2 linked regions of the Homo sapiens genome follow. The protein of the gene in region 1 interacts with the protein of each later gene in a pairwise test. Each region holds a gene or a part of one and is shown on either strand. Other genes may lie near its edges. The genes, in order: ADCY2 and GNG2.

Region 1 (2,222 bases):
AGGTGTCTTTTATTTATTTCAAACAAATGGCAGTAGTTTATTTCGAATGCCTTTGGGTGCATTATACCATATTTATAGTAACATAATAGAAAATATATAAAGTTTGGGTTATAGAAATATTTATAAATTATTCATTATTCAGACTTGATTTCAACAAAGACAAGGCATCTGTAAGTGACTGTAATAAATCAAAGTCAAACTAAATTATTTTCATTTACTTTCAGTCAGACCTTACTCCCTTCACCTTCTACTACATACTGACTTTCAAAAGGCAGGGCTGTAATTGGCCAAGATTTCAAAAGATCTCACATTTGTTAGGCCATAAGAGAAAATGAAGTATATTTCTCTCGGTATCCCAATGTTTATCATTTAAAGCCAATGCATGAATGCTTGTTAAAGCCATCACACATCATATCTTCTTATATTAATGGATTGTTTTGGTTTATCAAATTTTCATCACTGGGCAATTATGTTGCTTTTTCTTTTTTTTCTTTTTTTTTCTGAGACAGAGTCTCGCTCTGTCACCCAGGCTGGAGTGCAGTGGTATAATCAAGGCTCACTACGTTCTGGACTTCCTGGGCTCAAGTGATCCTCCCACCTCAGCCTCCCATGTAGCTGGGACTACAGGCACGTGCCACCATGCCAAGCTAATTTTCTTATTTTTTTGCAGAGATGGGGGTCTTGCTATGTTGCCCAGGCTGGTCTCAGACTCCTGGGCTTAAGTGATCCTCTCTCCTCGGCCTCCCAAAATATTGGGATTATAGGAGCCACTGCACCCGGCCTGATGATGTTACCTGGTCATTCGGTGTATCCAGAGCAAAGGAAAGATGAATGGTTGCTGCCTTTAGGAGCACAGTGAGTTGGGAAGGAAGAATAACATCCTGGATTGATGACAAAACTTAGACACTCCTAAACAGATATGTAAAACACTGGGGTTTTTGGGAAACTGGACTGGAGGCAATTTCTATGAGAGGCTTCCTGTAAGACTTAAAGGTTAAGGAGAGCATTGGGGAGAGATTTTTTTTTTTTCTTGAAGCCAATGGCACTGGGACCTGGGCTGATGAGAGGTGCACTGCCAGTTTTCTGCCTGGCATTTTTGCTCACAGGGATGCTTTTAGCTGCCCAGAACTTTAAGGAGCTTTGACCAGGAATAATGCTCTTTCAGATTCAAGGAACAGGCAGTTTTCCATTCTAGCCTGGCCTCAACTGCTAATCAACTGTGGAACTCTGAACACATGTGCCTGAATTACTCTGCCCCTGTTTCCTCACCTGCAAAAACACTGGGGAGGGAGGGAGGTCTGAAGCTTGATCAGGGATCAGAATCACCTGGAGAACCTGTTCACTAAACAGCAGTTGTGCTGGGCCCCAGCCCCGGGGATCTCAAATTCAGGGTCCTCCTTCAGGTTGGGGCCTGAGAATTTGCATTTTTGATAAGTTCACAGGGGATGCTAAGGCTGCTCCTATGGGACCACACCTAGAAGGGACCAGGTACACACAGAGCTTCCCATAGTGGATTCTGACAATGACTCAATGCTTTTAAAAGCCTATTGTTTGGTAAGACTGGTGATATGGCTTTGGGAGAGCACAGTTCTCCTTTTGAGTTCTTTTTAGCGCAAACCCAAGTTCGGTGCACCCCGTGGGGGAATGGGAGGGACTCTGTTTATGAGAACTTGGTGGACCACCCAGCTGGGGGTGTTCACTCAGGGTAGGTGAACTAAGGTGACCTGCGGATGAGTGTAGCAGGATGTAACAGAGGAAGAACCCACGAGGCACGCCTGCTGCTCATCCTTACACATTTTACACCAAGGCCAGTTTGAGCTCACGGAAACGCTACGGCATCCGTGAAGAATGAGTTAGAGGAAAGAGAAAAGCCCTTGTAATAATTCTCTTGCTTTAATCACTGTTTTTGGAGATTTAGGTATATTAAGGCCAATGCTGAGTTGTGATTACAGGATCAAAAAATTCCCCATTGAGGCAGAATACTAAATAAGTCATGCTCTACTCACACTTCGGTGATGAAGGACGGTTATCAGCTTCGATAAGTGCCTTTTACTGGGAATGAGTCACAGTCCTGGCACAGCAGCTGTGCCCGTGCTGTGAATGTACCACGGGGCACCTGCCAGGCTCGCTCACAGTCATTGCCTCGTTTAATCACTAGCGAGTCCATAAGTTGCCAATAAGGAAAGTACTCCTAAGAGGGACTAAGAGATGTGTTCAAAGTC
Region 2 (4,035 bases), on another chromosome or scaffold:
GCGGATAAGTGAGTGATTTCTACATAGAAGGTACTGAAATGTTATTTTTTTCTTCCTTGGTGGCATAAGGAAAAGTTAGCATATTCTTGGTCTTTACCACTGCCTCACAGGTTTAGGGAGACTTTTTTTATAGTGATAAAATATACATAACATAACATTTCCCATTTTAACTATTTTTTTAAGTATGCAGTTCTGTGGTAGCGAGTACATTGATGTGCTGTCATCACCACCGTCCATCCATAGAACTGTCTTTATCTTGCAAAACTGAAATTCTATACCCATTAATCAATACCTCCTCTTTCCCTCCTTCTCTCAGCTCCTGGAAACCCCCATTTTACTTCTGTCTCTATGAATGTGACCAAGTATCCCATATATGTGAAGTCATACAATATTTGTCCTTTTGTGACTGGCTTAATACACTTAGCATAATGTCTTTAAGATTCATCAATGTTGTAGCATGTGCTAGAATTTCCTTCCTGTTTAAGCTGAATAATATTCCATTGAATGTATAGACTATACTTTGTTTATTCTCTTTTGATGGACACTCGGGCCATGTTTTGGCTATTGTAAATAATACTGCTATGAACACGGGTGTACAAATATCTGTTAGAGTCCCTGCTTTTACTTCTTTTGGGAACCCAGAAGTGAAAATGATGGAACACAGTAATTATATATTTAATTTTTGAAGAATTGCCATACTGTTTTCCATAGCAGCTGCACTATTTTACATTCCCACCAGCAATGAACAAGGATTCCAACTTCTCCACATTCTCATCAATATTTATTTTGTTTTTTATTTATGTTTTTGATAATAGCCATTTTAAGAGGTATGAAGTGGTATCTCTTTATGGTTTTGATGAGCATTTTCCTAATCACTAGTGATGTTGAGCATCTTTTCTTGTGCTCATTGGCCATTTGTATATCTTCTTAGAAAAATGTCTATTCATATTCCTTGCTGATGTTTTTCCCCAGAAATACTGTGTTGAGAATATTTGCAAATTTTTAATCAAATTTTTGAAGAGACATTTGCAAATGGCAGGATCTTTTAACATAATGTGTCATTAGATAATAATCATAATCTTCGTATTTAACCTCCTTTATACAACAGTATTATCCCTGCGTAAATAAAATACTCCTCTCAAAAGTAACATTTGAAATCAAAAGGACAGAGTAAGAAAATGTGCATAGCTTCTGCTAGTTGGTGATGTCCAGAACCTGATAGTGAAATTCAAACCTTTATTGTAGACAGTCACACCAGTGATTCTGCTGGTCAAATCTCAGACCAGGCTACCACTACGGAGGCACTGGAGAGCTGTTTCTTCAGTGCTTTTCTGGTCCCCTCATTAGAGAAAAATGCTCAGTAGGTATCATGGCCAGAAAGGGAGGGGAGAAACTAAAGTACTAAATTGCTCTGAAATCCTTTATAAGGGGGAGCAGTAACTTGTGGGGAGGGGCTACAGTAGTTAAACAATACAACAAGTTTCTGAGACAACAAGTTTCTACTAATGAAGTGTGATCCTAACCAAAATTTCACTTTTAAAAATAATGAATCCTCTGTTTCCTTTTCCACGACAGATTTTACTCCTAATCCTTAAACTGGTGAGGCAGGGTATGGTGAGGCTGAGGAGAGCTGGGCAGAACAATTAGCAGGGACCCTATTGAATAGCAACAGTATCTGAGCTTTACGATGTGGGGTCAGACGTTGACCTTGAATGGTTTGAAGAGCTCCTGAATAATTAATGTTAACTTTCTGTAATGCACTTTGTCCATGTGCTGGGGGCCAGGGGTGGAGGGAAGTTTGCAAATAATGACCCCTAATTTTATTTAATGTGCACATCTATTCATTCTACAATTACTGGGAGAAGCCAGGTGCCTGTCTTTACTAGATCTGGGTGGGAGAGGAGAGTTGCAGAGCTGTGTCGAGATTTAGTCTCCACCCTCCCACCCTCACCTCCAAGATGATGACTATGTTAATTAGCCTGATTTGATCATCACAATGTATACATGTATCAAAACATCACATTGTACCCCATAAATATACACAATTTTTATTTTTCAATTAAAAATATAATAAAAAATTTATAAAGGACTTAGTCCCTGGCCTAGGACATGCTAGAATGGTAGAGCTAAAAATGATCTGGGGGGTGACCTAGCCTATATTGACCTCTTCATAAGGGATAATAAAATAGGCCTGGAATTTAGAGTTAAACAGTTCATTAATTCCTCACCTCCCAGTTACAACTCCATTTCACTTACCTCATATTAGGGCAAAGTCTTTATATGTTGTCACATTTAAAATTGTTTGTAAGACTAAAATATTTTGTTTAAAAAAAAAGAGTAGACGGTTTACATTTAGTACCCTATGTAAATATGGAGTTTCTGTGTACAAACTTGTTCAGGTGTGAAAGATGCCACTGTGGAATAGAGATTTAAATTTTCAGGTAAGAGTATTAGAGATATCTGTAAATATATGGTTCTTGAAAATTCTTATGTTAAAGACAACAAGTTGTATTTAGTGGGAGTCAGTGTTCAGACAATCTCTAGAGGACTTCATTAAACACTGAAAAAAAAAAAAGGGAGCTCAATTCTCAAACTTTAGTGATAACATGTTTCTTAGAAGTGGTACTACTGTATACAGAGGCTGGAGATAAGACAGGATCAGCCCCTTTATCTCTTGGCAAATATGTGTAAACAGTCAAGCTGTTAATGAAAAAGCTTTGAAAAACCAGTCTCTTGACCACTTCTTCCCTGTTCCCTGGCCTTCCCTTGCTCCCTGGCCAGCCCGGGTGTGGGGTCAGGCATTCCCCTGATCCTCTTCCCAGGAACCCAGCACTCAGAGGTAGAGGAGAGGGGCTGAAAACTGGGCTGACTGGTTCTACTCTAGATTCACTGCATCTCCGCAGGGCCATTGCTGTTCTTTCAAAATTCTTTCCTTCTTCCTTTTTTATTTCACTTTTCACTCTGTCCTGTGCATTTTCAATGGAAACCATTCAACCAAGTCCCTACTGCCTTTGTGCGTTAGAAGTGACCTCACTTTCTGTCTTTCTGAGAAGGCACATATTACAGACTTCCTCAACCTCATTCTTACCACCTTAGAATTTCCCCACGTCTTCCTTTATTTTAGATCATTTGAATTGCTGTCACAAATTACCAAAGATGAGGTAACCCAGAAACAACAGAAATCTTTTTTTTTTTTTACACTTCTATGGGCTGGAAAGTCCAAGATCAAGGTACTGGCAGATTTGATGTCTGGCAAAGGCCGTGGACAGCACTTTCTGTGTGTCCCCACATGACAGAAGGGGCCAGCTGGCTCTCTCCAGTCTCTCTTATAAGGGCACTAATCCCATTCATGGGACTCCATACTCATGACCCAATCACCTCCAAAGGTGGCCTCATGTCCTAATACCATTGCACTGGGGATCAGGTTCCAACATATGGGTATGTAGGGGGACAGAAAGATCTGCGTCATTCACATCATTCATTCTCCTCTTCCTCCTAAGTCAAATTAACATCATCTTTCCTTTAAGCCAAGAATAAACCCTCTACTTGGACTCTCTATCCCATTCCCTTTTACTTTCTAAGGGATTATGTTGTGACAATAATTCTGTCTTTCCTACATATTTAGTTTCTTCTCTTTCTTGGTCCTTTCCTCTTTCCCTGTAAACATGCTTAGTTTTTCCATACGCACACAAAGTAATTAAGAAGTAGATGAAACAAATCTCCTCCTACCTCTCTGCGGGCTCCAACTTCACTAACTTCAGTTCCTGCTCCCCAAATATGAGTGTTCTCAAGATACGAGTCTTTGGCCATTTAATTTCTCCCTCTCCCTAATCAAATTCTGTCCTGTGATTTTAGTCACTGTTGCTGTGTGGGTCAGTCCCAAATCTGATGAAGCATCCTAATCATTCACCTCCTCTCTCAGCTTGTACAGCAAGCTGCCTGCAAATTCACCAGAACATCCAACCCACAGAAAATGAAACTCACATGTCCAAAACTGTGCTCACCATCACCTTTCCCACTCCTCAAAACCAGCTC

What was found.
Region 2: the proteins of ADCY2 (region 1) and GNG2 come close enough for resonance energy transfer, tested with the Homo sapiens proteins (one study listed by BioGRID).

What each region holds. Positions count from the first base shown.
Region 1 is NC_000005.10:7,828,360-7,830,581, reverse strand, and holds the end of ADCY2 (adenylate cyclase type 2), read right to left. Parts: 3' UTR 501-2,222; downstream 1-500. UniProt on the Homo sapiens protein: Catalyzes the formation of the signaling molecule cAMP in response to G-protein signaling. Down-stream signaling cascades mediate changes in gene expression patterns and lead to increased IL6 production.
Region 2 is NC_000014.9:51,863,387-51,867,421, forward strand, and holds part of GNG2 (guanine nucleotide-binding protein G(I)/G(S)/G(O) subunit gamma-2 precursor), read left to right. Parts: intron 1-4,035. UniProt on the Homo sapiens protein: Guanine nucleotide-binding proteins (G proteins) are involved as a modulator or transducer in various transmembrane signaling systems.